Regions from separate parts of the Homo sapiens genome. Here regions 2 and 3 are each linked to region 1. The links come from fine-mapping of genetic effects on gene expression. A gene starts in region 1. Each other region holds a variant in brackets. All regions are shown on one strand. Distances are between the middles of the regions.

Region 1 (5,079 bases):
GTGCTGCCACAAAACACAGCTGAGCTCCAGCACCCAACAGGATGTATAATTAATGATCAGGAGAGACAGGCTCCTTCCCCCCTGGTGTTTTCATAGCCAGCCTTCACCCATAGCCCCAGGCTTCCCTACTTCTCTCAGCCGCCAAGGAGGCTGCTACAAGTTGCTGTGCCCTGTAGAAGTTTGAGGGGTCCTCGGTTTAACTTTACTAGAAAAGATGTGAACATGTGGAGGCTGCAATGTGTATCTACCCTGCACTATTCCCCTGGATTTCCCTTCCCTCCAAAACGGTTCGCGCGTGAAGTCCCCTAGGATGGGAATTACTCAGAAAGAAGGCAGCTGGCTCACTCTCTTTTTTCCAGTTCTTTCTTTTTTATTCTGCAGTTTTCTATCAGTGTCGGGTCCCCCACTCCAGCCAGTGGCTGTGGGGAAGGGAAGACATCTCTAGGGACACGACTACAGACCAGGCAGTGAGCCTAGCAACCATACATCGAAGGTGTCGCCAGCCTCAGTGCCGGTGGGCGTCTGCACCAGGAATAGCTAAAGCCGACGACATCTAGCCACCTCGAGCGCCAGGGAAGACGCTCCGCGTAAAACCGCGGCCTCAGGCGGACTCCCGCTCCAGCTCCGCGCTGCTGGTGGCATTTCCGGGGACCCAAAGTGGGTGGCCTGGGGGCAAAGGAACAGAGGCCGAAGAACTTGGGGTATGTTCCACTAGAGCACCTAAGGGACGGAGTGGGAGGTTACATCAGATATGCGACCTCGACACATTCCAAAAGTGGCAGCCCCGTGGGCTACCCCCAATAGTGGGATGGATCTCCCCAACTTCTCTCGCCCCTCGAAGTCCCCCTGTTATCTCGGGCCATGCTCCTCCCCCGGGATTCCCTTGTGCAAAATTATTCTCTCCCTTGCCCAAAGGATTTTTCCCTTCTTTCTGACCCCACGAACTCATCTCCCCAACAGGTTCCTAAAGTATGGGCGGATGTGCTCCCTCTCGCCCACCGCCAGGAGCCGAGCCCCGGCAGGTGAGCGGTGCAAAACACGCACCCAGCTGCCCCCAGCTTCCTCCGTCCCCGCTGAGTTGGCTGTCCCCACCCCGCACCACGGCACCCGAGCCTGTGAGTCCCCGACCCCGGCCCCAGCCGCAGCCGCCAACAACCCTACAATAAACAAGAGGACAGGATTGAGCGTCCGCGTCCCGGAGCGCACTGGCTGGGGGCAACTCCTCACCCCCGGCGCGCCGCCCGCTGCCCCGATCCGAGAGCACCGGGAGAGCCGAGGGAAGGGAAGGCGGCGAGGGGAAGGCAGGCGGGGATGGAGGGAGGCACGGCGCGGCGCGGAGCGAGGAGGTGGGCTGCAGGGGACGCCGAGAAGCGGTGGGGCTGGCGCAGAGGGCGGGCGCCCGGGGCGCGCGTTACCTTCGTCTTGCCCCCGCAGTGGCAGCACACGGTCCACAGGTACTTGAGCGTCCGCCAGAGCAAGATGATGAAGAGGCCCCCGAAGAAAGTCACCATGGAGGAGGCCAGGAAAGCCCACCACATGCGTTGGCCCCGGCTGTCGCACGGCACCTCCATGGTCACCGGGATGATGAGCGCATCCATCTTGGGCTCGTGGACCGAGGACGAGGAGGAAGAGGAGGAGGAAGAAGAAGAAGAGGAAGAGGAGGAGGAGGAGGAGGAGGACGCGTCTAGGCTGAGATGGTTCGCGTGGATATTGCTACTCATTCTAAGACTGCTGCCTCCGCCGCCGCCGCCGCCGCCGCTGCTGCCGCCGCCGCCGCCGCCACCATTTGCCATAGCTAGCAACGGGCAGCCGGCGCAGGGGCTCGGGGGAGCTCCTCCCGCCGCCAGCGCCACCCCAAACACCCATCAACAGCCATATTGCTGCTACTGCTGCCGCCGCCGCCGCCGCCGCGGAGCGCGGGAGGGGGGCGGGGAGGCGCCTGGGCTCGGGGCGCTGTGCGCGACCTGGCGGGGTGCGCCGAGATATATACAGCGAGCCGCCGCCGCCCGCCCGGGGGGGAGGGGGATGGAGTGCGCGGGCAGCTCCCCCTCCCCGGCCCGCGCCCCGCTCGCCCCGGGCTGCGCTGGCCCCGAGCGCCGAGAGCCAGGGGGCGCCGCGGGCCGCCCGCGCCCGGGGTCTGCGCCGCCCCCGGGCCCGCCCCGGCTCCGCGCGCGGTCCCGGGTGTCCTCGGCGCCGCGCCGCCCGCCGTGCGCCACGGGTGTGCGCTGCGCTCGGCCGGTGACCCCCTTCCCCGAGCGCCTCCCGCGCGGCTAACGAGCCGCTCTCCGCTTATTAGGTGGTAACTCGTTAATAATGGATAATCGGCCCCCTCCGCCCGGGCGCCCCTGCGCCAGCCCTCCTCCCCCGGCTGCGCTCGGCTCCGGCTCGCCGCGCCAGTGCGCGCCCGGCCGCGGCAGGTTCACCGCGTCCGGCCGCCGGCCCGTGGCCGCCTGCTAGCCCATGTTCTCGGGACCCCCTAGTCCTGTCGCCACGCCGCTGAGCCCCTCGGCCTCCGCTCGCTCTTCCTCCTTGCCGCCTCCGACTCCTCCTCGTCCCCGTCCTCGCCGCCCAAGCCTCTTCGGCGCGCGCCCCGCGCTCCCCGCAGCCGCCAGCAGCAGCAGCTGCAGCAACTGGAGCGGGCGCGGACTCAGGACGACCCAGGCGGGAGGGGAGGAGGCTCGCCGCGCTGGCTCGCCTGGGCTCCGGGCTGGGCAGGGGTGGGCAGGGCCCCTCGGCAGCGGCCCGGCAAGCGCCCCTGACCCCCAGGGCGCAAGGTAGAGCGCCCCCAGCCCAGGCGCGGGGCCAGGCGCCTCTCTCCAAGGTGCTGCGCCCCCAGCCGAGAGCGGTGGGGTACACTGGGAGGACGGCGGGGCGCCCCGGTCAGGCCGTTTTTTTCCCCAAAGAGCCCCCAGTGGGGAGGGGAGGAGTGGCCAGCTGTCAACTGGATTCCACAGGCTGAGCTCCCCAGGACCCTCGGGCTTCGGGAGTGAGGAGGACCCCACGCCAGGATACACACAGCTACCCACCCCTACTTCGCTCTTCCTGCTACCTATGTGCCCAGGGTCCCGCGTGTGGCTGGAGGGTAGAGTCAGGAAGGCCAGCGGGTGGTCTGTGGCCTCTGACAGCAGCAGGTGGTTTCTCTCCTTTTTCCTTATTAGCAACAGAGGCTGCCCAACAAAGAGTAGGCAGAAATGATCAAGGACGACCTGGCCTGGGGATAGTGCAGGCCCCGATAGACAATAGAGTTCCCTGAAGGGTTGCTTTCCTCTCATATAGTCTCAGACTCCATCCATCCCGTGAGGAGGGCAGATGGGGGAAGAGGGACTCCAGACTTCATTCTGGCTCACCGTTCCCCATTTAGGGTCTTCCCTTCTCCCCACTTAAGATGAAGAAGGAGTCCGTGTTTGTTCCGTAGCGTGTCTCCGTACACCACCAGGGGAATCCCCCTTCTGACACTTTCAGAAACTTTGCGCCCCCTGAACAGCGTCCGTCCTCGTGCTACCAGCTGGACCCCAAGTTTTTCCAGCGCTAATTAAATCGAGGATGATCACGCTCTTCCCTCATTGCTGCAGTGGTTTCCCCAAAGTTTCCAGCTCATTAGTTTAAGCCTAATTGGAATTCTCAGGTTCCTTTCAGCTCTTCCCATGGAAAAGGCCCAAGTTAGCATCCTTAGCTTTACACCTGAGGCTGTCTCCGTGAGAGTCAGATCAGCCCTGCCCTTGTCCTTGGAGGTCTCTGGAAGGAAGAGCGAGCAAGGGAGGCTGAGCTGGGCAGAGAGGCTGAAGAGGATGTTTGAAGCTTCTCTCTTGCTTGATTCGGAATACATTCATTGGGTTTAGAGTACACATCCACTAAGAAAGAGTCAAGGCCAAAGTCAAAGGAGAAAATGGAATGAGGTAAGAGTTCTTGAGTATTTGGTTCTCAAAAAGAAGTGTATGTAAAAGGGAGCTGCAGAAAGTGTGCTCCAGAAAATGGAATTGTCTGAGCCTCCTCTCCATACCATCCCATAGTACCTCCAACCTCGGCCTCTGTGTTCAGCCACTCTGAATGCATCCCTGCCACACCAGACCCAAGCATGCAAAGGCCCTGGGCCTTTTCTGGTACTGGGTTGGGGGAGCGGGACCCAGAAGTGCTGTGGGGATGCGCAGGAAGGTGACTATGGCATTGAGGTTCCTTTATTAGCCTCTCAATGGCTGTAGTTTGCTGCTTTTGTGCCTCAGCAATGCCAAGAAAGTTAAGGACATTCCTTAAATCAAGGCCAAGATTTGAAATTTAAAAATAAAACACCCAGAACATAAAAAGGGCAGCAAAGGATAGGACTGTCTCCCCAGTGGGATATGAAACCTCCAGAATGGATTCCCTCACCCACAAAATTGAAATTTTGCAAACCAGCAAATCCCCTCTGGGGCCTTCTTAGACATTCCCTACAGCCTGGATTCCCCTGAAATGCCAGTCTGGGGTCTACTGGTAAGCAGCCGATGGCCGTGACTTCTGTCACCCCAACTGCAGGATCTATAGCTTTTTCTCCTCCATCATCACCTTCATCACCTCAGCATCTTTGGAGAGGGTGCTTGGAGGCCCCTCAGATGCCATCTCCTGCTCTCTTCATCACCCCTGCCTCTGCTGATTGAAGCTTTTAGCAACTTCTGTGCTGTCCAAAGCCTCGGCTTAGTCAGGAATCATCAGAAACTCTCAGTGTTGATGTCAATATCCTTTCCTTCCTACAATCCCCAGTCTCTCACCTCCTCCCTGAATGGCCTGGCTGGTAAGCACTGAGAGAGTGCTACCATCCACCAGAAATAGACATTCCCAGGCCTTTGCCCAGTTCTCTCTGGCCATTTCCACATTGTTCACAAACTTTTGCACCACTTCCAGAAAACTTGGCCCCTGGCATTACAAATTTAGGAAAAGGCTCTGCACAGACAGAACCTCAAACTTAAAAGGAACCTTAGGTATCTTTGATTTGATGTGTTTCTTCATTTATACAATCAAAATAAAGCCAGAAACTTCCCTGCCTACCTCGAAGGGTTATATGTGAGGATGAAAAAGAAGGCTGGGCATGGTAGCTCACTCCTGTAA
Region 2 (5,079 bases), 76 kb before region 1:
ACTCCAGCCTGGGTGACAGTGCGAGACTCTGTCAACAAAAACAAAACAAAATAAAACAAAAACCCTGCAGGTTATGACCCATCAGCAGGTCACAGAATCAACTGAATCATTCACAATCAGCATTTTTCAACTGAAACAACAGCACAGAAAACAGAGTACTGCATATTAAAAGGGTTGCTGCATGGAACTTTTGTTTAATTACATACATGAACATAAGTATTGGGTTGAGAAAGAAAAGGTATTTCTTATTCTGGGTTTCAGGGGAAAAAGCTTTTGAAAGCCCCTGATCTAGCTAACTCCACTCTATCATTGATGAGGAAACTGAGGCTCAGAGAACAGCATGGTCAAGGCCACTCAGAGAATGTGCAGCCAGGTGAGGTGGTTCTCAGTCCATGCAGCCTGCGGACTTTGCTTTTCTTCTAAGCAGCTCTGGCTCTGGCCATGGGCATTGGGATTCTGGGATGCTAAGTAGCTGGCTCCTCAGTTCCTAAGAGCTGTGCTCAAGTGGTCTCTAGTGCCATTGAGATTTTCCCCAGCAGAGTAACCCTTAGCACTAGATCTCCTGAGGCTGACCAGGAGGCCCTGAGAAGAGATGCCAGCCAAGCACCCCATCCCCCATTCCCACAGCCTGGTAGTGGGTTTGGGCCCAGCCTCTACATCTCATTCTCTCTTTATAAAGTCTCAAGCAAACTGTGTGGCTGGGACTTTATAATAAACTTGGAGCCTTCTTCAAGCTGAGGCTCCAGCAAACAACTAGATCTTTCTGAGCAGATGCTTCTGCTCTTTAGGCAGGCTTCCTGTCTCTACAGGTGGTCTAGCCCTGGGACTACTGGAAAAATGAGGGAGTGAGGGTGTGCTTTGTGAGAGGCTGGGACAGGGGAACGGCTCCTCCTGACAATGTATGGAAACACTTTTTTTTTTCAATTAAAAATAGCATAGATCACAGATGAGAAACTAACTAGAACTATATAAAAATACAACTTTTTTTTTTTCCAATGGGACCTGCTTAGATAGAAGCTAACATTCCCTGAAAACTATTTGTCAAGCATTGTGCTATGGGCTTCACACACATTATCTCCCTGGATGGTATAGTAGTTATCTCACTTGATATAAAATAAAGTTCAGTGATACCAGTGAATGTATTAATGACATACACAGAGCTATCACTTCTACAGTGCTTATTCTATTCTAAGAATTTTGTGTGTTATTTGATCTCATCATCAGCTTGATACAGTTGGTGCTATTCTCATCCCCACTTTGCGGATTATGAATTGAGGTAAGAAAGGCTACCTGACATGCCCACACTCACATAGATACTAAGTGGTGGGGCCAGGGTTTGAACCCAGATGGTCCAAGCTTTGGACCCTCCTAATTACCTCCACTACACTGGTTATGATTCCTTCCACTTTCTGGCGCAGAAGCAGAGACTCGGGAAAGTTAAATCATTTGTGTCCACTCCACCCAGAAGCTCTCCACGTACACCAGAGGGATGGAAAACATTTAACAATGGGTAAGGCAGGTCCATGACCTTCACAAGGGGCACCATTGGCTAGGCTGGAGACCTCCTGCTATGCTGGAAACTGAGCCATTTTAGGGGCTGCTTCAAGGGGAAACCCAGAGGGTTTCAGAGAAGGGATAAGGTAACAGGGACACTCACAGCACTTAGGGCAATGTCTATTTTAATCAGCAGGGAAGTTTTCCAATATGTTATCAATTTTGGCCACTGCAAACAGCCAAGATAAGACAGTGCTAAAGCTCTTAGTCGAAACTGAATTTTTGCATGTTTCGGGGCTGGAAAGAACTCTTGAGCCATATAGAATTCAACAGCCTCATTTTACCAATGAGGAAACCAAGGCTGCTATGCAAAGCATGGTGCCCAAGGTCAGAGAACTAGTAAATGACAGAGTCAAAATGAAAATCCAGGGTGCCCAGATGCCCAGATTGGTACTTAGGGTGTTTGGTGGTGGTGGTTTGTTTCTTCCCTATCTGTGCTGATTATATTCAATACACAGATGCTGATGTGCATGCACGGGGCCCAGCCCCCAGCTGCTGTGCCACACCCTGACAACCTCAGGATCTTCAGAGAGGCTCAGCTGCTCAAAGTTCCACCAGGGACCATACAAGCTTCATGGATATTCAGATTTTTTTTAGTAAGCACCTGAATTTTGTGTAACTGATTTCCACACCCATTGAAGG[C/T]GGCTTCTAAATTTAGAATTAACATCCAAAGCGGTCTGTTGCACAAATGTATACTTCCTCGCAAGCTGTTGTCAGAAACAGTAAAACTGACATCCATAAAACAGTTTCTTCATACCTTAATAATATTGAACTATAAAAATAGAGGATCTCAAGCAAACAAAGCTGTAACCATAATAACCTTTACAAAGTCTACTACCACAGTCAAGTACTGTCCAGATCTTTTTTTAATGAAAATGTAAAGGTGGCCCCAGCCTTATTCTCACATGACAATGCAATTCCCTAGGCCCAGCATTCCCTCTAGACACTTGTCACTGCCCAATCCAGAACTTTAGTAATTGATCATTTGGGGTAATAACCTGCACCTTATACAATAAAGCCACCTTTGCAGAAACTGCAGCTTCACTTTCATCACTTCCTCCTTTGCCTATTCCAATTAGTTGCTTAGATTCAGTTAGACACGTCTCCCCATACCAAGCACATTCAGTTGTGCCAGGAGGATGGAAGAAGTCTTTCTTTCAAGACATCTTAACAAAGTAGACATTGCAACGCAATAAAGTAGTGAGACTCATGGTTGATGCTTACACACAATCTTCCAACAGAATGCTTTATCATCCCTTGCCCAGAACAGATGGGGAAAAAATTACGCTATGCCCTGAAATTTTCCATTCTTGATCTCAGCCCAAAGGTGACTTTTTTATTTTTAAACTTGAGACTTGAGCAAAAAAAAAAAAGTTCAACTATTTTTGATTCATGCCCAGGCTAAAGAAACACATGGTAAGATTCTTTTTTTTTCCAAACCCGTAGGTAGCTCAAACAGCTAAGCTTCAAAAGCTCAAGCTTTCCAACTAGCACTAATAGTGTTCACAGAGGCAGCACCTCTGCAGTAATTGCAAGGCCAAAAATCAATAGCCGGGGTGAGAAGGAGCTGGGATTCCACTTTCTGGACACATTGTCCCCAGTACCTCTAAATACTTAAAAGAACCGCATAGAATTCTCAAATGTTTAAGCAGGATGGTTGGGCCTGAAGCTTTTCCTCCCTTCTGGGTGATAAGGCAACCCGTCCTCATCACCATTTTTTCATTACCCATCCTTTGATGCATTTCAGTCCTCTCGAGAGTCCAGGCTACCCAGAGAGAACTGACAGGTCTCCTGACTGCCCTCTGTCCCCAGAACTTGCTCTCTTCTACCCCGTCCCTCCCAGCCCTAGCCCCAACACTGACTCCTCTACTCCTTCTACCCTCCCTCCATCCTGCTATTCCCAGTCTCCATAGAGGAAAAAGGGAGTGTCATGCCTAGATGAAAAGATTTGGGGTTCAAGTCACCCCATGTACCTCCCTGGTTCCAACGAACCTCCGGAATTCTAGCCACAGATCCCCCTCTTGCCCTCTCATCCTCCCCTAACACATCCCTACACATTGCAGGCCCAGGGGGGAGTCCACAAAATGGGACTCCATGCATCCATCCTTCTGTGGGGCCGCGTAGCACACCCACGGCAAGACTCCAGTCCCTGGTCCCGGCTCTGCCACTTATGAACTGTGTGCCCATAAGCAAGTCGTCTCTTGCTCTGCAGACTGGGGCTTATCACATTTGTCCCACCTGTCCCAGAGAGCTGTTATGCAAAGTAAGGGGAATCACAGATGTGAACAGGCTTCAGAATCAGAGCTCAATATAAATGTACCTCCTTATTATTAGGCACATGGCACAGTGCCAGGCAGTGTGGTATGTTCCTTGGGGCTAAAGTCCAAGAGATATTGGCAATAAAAGAAAGTGAATTATACCGGGCAGAAAACAAGGAACAAAAAGAGAAGAACAGAGATGAGGATTCACCAGCCTCCAGAGAAGAGTGAATTCACAGTGACAGTGCAATCAATAAAGGCTTCCTGCAAGAGGAAGGCTTTGTATGCAGCCTGAAGTGGCTCTCACCACGCTGATCAAAGGTGATTTCATGGCCAGGCATGGTGGCTCATGCCTGTAACACGAGCACTTTGGGAGGCCGAGGCGGACAGATCACTTGAGGTCAGGAGTTCAAGACCAGCCTGGGCAATATGGTGAAACCCCATCTCTACTAAAAATACAAAAATTAGCCAGGTATTTTTTTTACAGGTGGCACATGCCTGTAATCCCAACTACTCTGGAGGCTGAGACAGAAGAATCACTTGAACCTGGGAGGCAAAGATTGAAGTGAACCAAGATCACACCACTGTACTCCAGCCTGGGCAACAGAGCAAGACTCTGTCTCAAAAATAAATTTAAATTTAAATGTAAAAAAGGTGATTTCATGCATGCCCCTTCCCAAGACCAAGCGCTCTTTGAGGGCAGGTGACATGTCTTTATGTCTCAGCCTTCGCAGCTTCCTCCTGGCATCTAGGTGAAAGAAAGAATGAATGGAGCCTTGAACTAACCAGGAACTCAACTAAGTGGAAAAGAGGAGAGACTCCCAGATAGCAGAGGGAAGACAAGCTGGGGTCAGAGGGCGGACTCTTTGGCTTAGGAGTAGAGGAGTTCAGAAGTTCAGGCTTCTGATCACAAAGGGAGGTAAAAGGAGTTCAGAGGAGTCAGTGACATCATGAAATCAGTATTTGGGGAGCTTAATTGGGCAGCTGCATGCAGGATATGCAGCAGGGGGTGAAGGAAAGCTGGCAGAGTGGCCAGGAGGCAAGGGCAATGAGTCAGGCAGACGGTGAGAAGGGAAGCCACTGCCTCTCGGCCAAATCGCCCTCTGGGAGCACCCATCTCTGTCCCAGTGGAAGCCCCATCAAGGGCCACTCTCAGTGACTGTCCTCTTTAGGCTGGACCTTAAGTGTCCCCTAGTCCTCCTGCCTTGCACCCAGCACTGGCCTCCTGCAAGTGGTTACCTTCCCCTTGTGAATCCCTCCAGGCTCA
Region 3 (5,079 bases), 100 kb before region 1:
ATGCACACACTCCAGTAGCAACCACACATCAGTTACTAAGCACATCTTAATTCCAGAAGGACGCTCTAACATCCCAAAATACTCCAACCAGGGCTCAAAAGTCAAAAGGTCCCACCATTGACTCCTGTTCATCTACCCCACATATCTCAGGACTCATCAGATTTGGTCCAAGAAGTTTATTCCCCTCCTTCCGAAAAATACGGATGGAAGTAGTTATAATTCAGTTTTTTAAAAGACAGCTATTATCAAAAAGTCTGAAAATAACAAATGCTGGCAAGGAAGTGGAGAACAGGGAACATTCATACACTGTTGGTGGGAATGTAAATTGGTACAGCCACTATGGAAAACAGTATGAAGGTTCCTCAAAAAACTAAAAATAGAATTACCATATGATCCAGCAATTCCACTGCTGGGTATATACCCAAAAGAAAAGCAATCACACAGAAGAGATCTCTTCACTCCTGTATTTATTGCAGCACTCTTCACAATAGCCAAGATACGGAATCAACCTGAGTGTCCATCAATGAACAAATGGATAAAGAAAATGTGGTACATATACACAATGAAATGTTATTCAGCCATACAAAAGAATGGAATTCTGTCCTTTGCAGTAACATGGATGGAACAGGAGGACATTATGTTAAGTGAAATAAGCCAGGCACAGAAAGACAAATATGACATGTCCTTACTCATGTGGAAGCTAAAAAACTATCTCATGGAGCAAGAGAGTAGAATGGTAGTTACCAGAAGCTGGGAAGGGTAGTGGGGAGGGGATATTAAGAGGGATTGGTTGATAGGTGCAAACATACAGGTAGATAGAAGGAATACGATCTAGTGTTCAGTAGCACAACAGGGCAACTGTAGTTAACAAGAATTTATTCTACATTTCAAAATAGCTAGAAGAGAATATGTGGGATGCTCCCAATACAAAGAAATGATAAATGTTTGAGGTGATGGTATCCCAGGTGCCCAGAGTTGATCATTACACATTGTGTGCTCACAGCAAACTATCACAGGGGCCTCATAAATACATAAAACTATTATGTATCCATAAAAATTAAGACAAAGAAAGGAAAATGCACTGGCATGTGTATTTTGCGGAATTATTTGGTTTGGCAACTACTCTTTGTCTAGAGATGGAGTTTAGAATTGTCCCTCAGGTTTGAGGCCACAGTTCCTGGCATCTCGGAGCAGGAGGACGCCAGCATCCTTCTTGTTAGAATCAGACAGCATGGGCTTTCCCAGAGCTTACTTCCTGCTGTGGTCTTTCTTCCCAGTGTTGGGAGAATTCCCTCACTTCACTGATCTTCAATATCCTCATTAGTGACAGTAATGCCAATATTTTTATCATTTAGAATGTGCTAGATACAAAGCTAAGGGCTTCATACCTACGAACTCATCTATTCTGTGCAACAGCCTTACTATGAAAATAACATTAGGTACGTTGACTGCCTCCCCCAGGTAGAGATGAGGAAGTAGAGGCACAAAGAGGTGAGTAACTTACTCAGGTTCCCACAGCTTGTGGGCAGGATGTTGGGGTTGGAATTGGGTACTCTGTCTCCCGCACTCTGATATGTCTGTCAGCTGGAAGCAAAAAGGCCCACTTCAGAAGTCATTGACTAAATTTTAAAAGCCAATGATCTAAACACCATAGTGCACCCTCAATTGGTGTCATCACTGGTCTCCTCCCCAGAGCTGCCAACATCCACACCTTTCTCTCAACAGCCATTTGAACACAGGGAGAACACATGATTCACCACAGCCAATGACTGGGAAAAACCAAACACAAAGCTCACCGCATGGAGTGTGATGTCTTGTGTCCCATTCATTTCCCAGTGATTTGCAGGACCTTGTATGGTGTCTGGGAAAAATGTGTATTGACTTTAGTTCATTTCCTTCGTAGGTTCAGCCTCTTATTATTTTATGTTCATATTTATTTTCCAGAGATAGCCCTAAACACGGGACATCACCAGTTCCAGTGAAATCTCCAGGGGGAGTACATAGAGCCCCAGGACAGACAGGAACTGTGTCACCTAACCCAACACTCCCAAGACTTCTGAATGCTCCTAGAACCAAACTCCTCTTCTGCTCCATTGCTTCCCCTCCACCCCCCTGCTCCTTTAATTTCAGTGACAGGAAATGCCTTCCGTTTGGTCCATCCTATGTCATGCATCACTGTGCCAACTCAGGGGACACATTCTTCAGCCACAAGAACACCACCCCAGCAGAACCACATTGAGCCTACAGTGCCCACACCTTGCTCCAAAAGTCACATCCTTGCCCCCACCCAGGGCCCACCTTCCCCAAACCATGGACAAATGCCAGAACCAGGCCTGAGAAGGGCTCTTTCAGAGTCCAAGACACATGAGCTTCCTTGGAAAGCATCTTCCCTATGGAAATTCCCCCCATGACTGCAGAAAAATTAAAATCACTCAGAATTCTCTATTTCTTCTTAGAGTTTCAGAATTGACTTGAAGACACCTAAAATCCTAATCTCACCAACTCTCCATCTCCTCCTCTGCCTCTAAAGGAAGAAAAAAAAATTTTAAAGAATGGACCTAGCATTGAGAAACAGAGAACAATCTATTATTGTGACTATAACAACTCCTAAGGAGCCATCAGAGTCTCGGTGGCACCGCTGGCCCCATCGTCACCCAAATCATCACAGTGGGCCGTTCGGACTGCAACACGCTGCCTGCTCCTCCCGGCGCACATTCTTCCTGGCTCTCCCTCACTGATTTTTTGGCAGGGCTCAGCAGGAATGGAATGGGCTTCCACGCCCGTTATGATGATGGATGGGCAGGCTGCTGGTGGAGTGGGGCCTTTGGGGAGGCACTGTATACACACGCACATACACACACACTCACATACTCTCACATTCGTATACTCTACACGTACTCTCACACACACTCTCATATTCACATACTCTACACACACACTCACACAC[A/G]TCCACATACTCTCACATTCACATACTCTACACACACTCACACACACCCACATACTCTACATTCACATACACACTCTACACATACTCTAAACACACACACATACACTAGACACACTCATACTCACACATACTCTCATATTCACATACTCTACACACTCACAAACACACATATACTGTCACACTCACATACTCTACACTCACACTGCATACATGTGCTATACCCTACACCCTACACATACCCATACACACTCACACTCAAACTCTTGGCCAGCAGCACCCAGGTGAATCCACTGTGGTCTCGTGGGCCAGGATTCTCCCCAAGATCCTTGGTCGCTGAAGCAGCCCCAAACCCGCTTTGTCTGGGTCTCTTCCAACTCTAGAGCTTTCATTGCCATCATTACCCCCAGCTGGACTTCTGAGTCAACCAGATCTGAGTTAGAATCCCAGCTCCACAGCTTACTAGCTGTGTGGCCTTGGCAAGGTCACCTCTCTGAACCTCAATTTCTTCACGTGTGTCTTGGAGAATGCCAGTACTAAACTCCCAGGCTAATATGGAGTCCTCAACAGCCCAGCTAGATGGTGAGTCCCATCTATGATCCATCAATGGCACCCCCTCCCCCACCTTGGTCCCTCTGCCACAGACTCCATGGATCTCCTTAAAACCTAAGGATATGGAGTTAAAATCTGACCCAACAGAGGGCCTCTATGAACCTGTTCTCGTGCCACAAAAGGCATCTAATCCCATTGCTCCCTGCCTGTGAAGGGCTGGTTGTCAAGACTGATTCAGGGGACAGTGTGTGTGGAGTGGTTAGCACAGGGCTCAGCATGAAGGCTCTGCATAGTAACAGCTGCCTCTGAGGCTAGGAGGCTCCGTACATAGGTCCCCCCTCCTGCTGAGCAGTAACCTGTCTCCTTCATGTCACCACCCACGGTCCTACATCTACCCAAGAGGCTGAACACACTCCAATACAGGCTGGTTGGTCCGGGAGGACCCTAGGGAAGAAGCTGGAGACTCTGAGACTTACACCATTCATAAACCAGCTCCCCCACCCTAGGTAAGAGCATATGTCTCTGAGGAACCCACTTTTCTCTTTTCTGTTCCCTCAAGAGCCTGCAAGGCCATTCTCTTATTTGCCATTCCCAACTTCCCAATGAGCTAGCATGATAGGTACTAACGTTCTGCATTTTAAAGACAAGCAAGCACCTAAGTCAGGTTGCTTGTCCAAGATAATGCAGAGATGGAGATGGGATCAAAACCTATGAGTCATCTCCCAACAACGTATCCACTAAAATACCTGCAATTCTAGTTTTACAGGTAAGAGAATAGACATGGGTGGGATAAGTGAGTGGCCTGGGGATACCCAGATAATGGAGCATGGAGGTGAGGCAGAATTGAGCTTGGGGACCGAAACTCTATCCTCTTAAATGGCAGATTTGGGAGACATTCCCTCAAGAATGAACCCAGCTCTGGCAGGGCCCCTCATCCCCAGGTGTCCCCACCAAATTCCTGGCCCCTGCTATTTTGGAAGTCTATCAGAGATGGGCAACACAGACACTGAGGAGCCACGGGTGAATTCCCAGCCCTAATTTTCTGTTCTGTGCTCAGTCTGTGGGCCCTGGGCTTGGGTATCGCCCTCTCTCTGCAGAGTGTGTGCACCACCCACCAATGCAAATGCTGTTGGCCGCTGGGAGAAAGCAAAGCAAAACTTGCTGCCAGCCCAGCTCTGCTTCGTAATCTGCCCTTTGCATTGCTGGGGAAGCAGTGGGAATACAGTTGCAGCTACCTGATGGTACATCTAAAAAAATAACCAGCTAAAGGGGCCCACAGACTCCCACCTGTCCTCTCCTACCCACCACTCTGGGAGAGCAGCGAAGAGCTGCTGTTTCTTTTTTCTCCCACCCCAAGGAAATCAATATGTTGTGCAAAAACAACTCCTTCCAGCAAAACTCCACTTTACACCTACCTCCATCTGGACCATCCCTTGGAGCATCCCCCTAATTCACCAATAATTCCTCCCAGAATCATCATGATTGATTTCACAGACCTGGGTTGCTGCCTGTCCTGCTATGTCCCAGCCAGGTGGAGCAGAGCAGTCACATCCACACTCAGTCCCCAAAAGCTTTGGATCCAG

Direction of the effects. Alleles are on the strand shown, and positions count from the first base shown. SD is a standard deviation of normalised expression in the study named. Not every link is listed here.
As copies of T replace C in region 2, the expression in monocytes after interferon gamma of the gene that starts at base 1,959 in region 1 goes up (large effect, 1.0 SD a copy in Fairfax 2014).

Evidence for each region. PIP is the estimated chance that this variant, and not a neighbour inherited with it, causes the effect. A credible set is the group of variants that fine-mapping cannot tell apart.
Region 2: its variant is the best candidate, but not a certain one, in a credible set for the expression of KCNMA1 in monocytes after interferon gamma (Fairfax 2014, PIP 0.89).
Region 3: its variant is the best candidate, but not a certain one, in a credible set for the expression of KCNMA1 in monocytes (TOPMed, PIP 0.77).

Annotation. Positions count from the first base shown.
Region 1 is chr10:77,635,850-77,640,928 of GRCh38, forward strand. KCNMA1 (potassium calcium-activated channel subfamily M alpha 1) reads right to left here and starts at 1,959. Exons shown (of 28, transcript NM_001161352.2): 1 at 1,416-1,959. The coding sequence starts at 1,793.
Region 2 is chr10:77,560,148-77,565,226 of GRCh38, forward strand. All of the region lies in intron 1 of KCNMA1 (potassium calcium-activated channel subfamily M alpha 1), which reads right to left. Among named protein-coding and RNA genes, the nearest start is that of KCNMA1, 75 kb to the right of the region's middle. RefSeq lists enhancers at 4,121-4,977, 4,978-5,079 and a silencer at 4,944-5,079. The variant C/T (reference allele first, on the strand shown) is at 2,197.
Region 3 is chr10:77,535,130-77,540,208 of GRCh38, forward strand. All of the region lies in intron 1 of KCNMA1 (potassium calcium-activated channel subfamily M alpha 1), which reads right to left. LOC124902464 (a long non-coding RNA gene) reads right to left here and starts at 2,892. Exons shown (of 2, transcript XR_007062205.1): 1 at 1,797-2,892; 2 at 1-1,584. The variant A/G (reference allele first, on the strand shown) is at 2,948.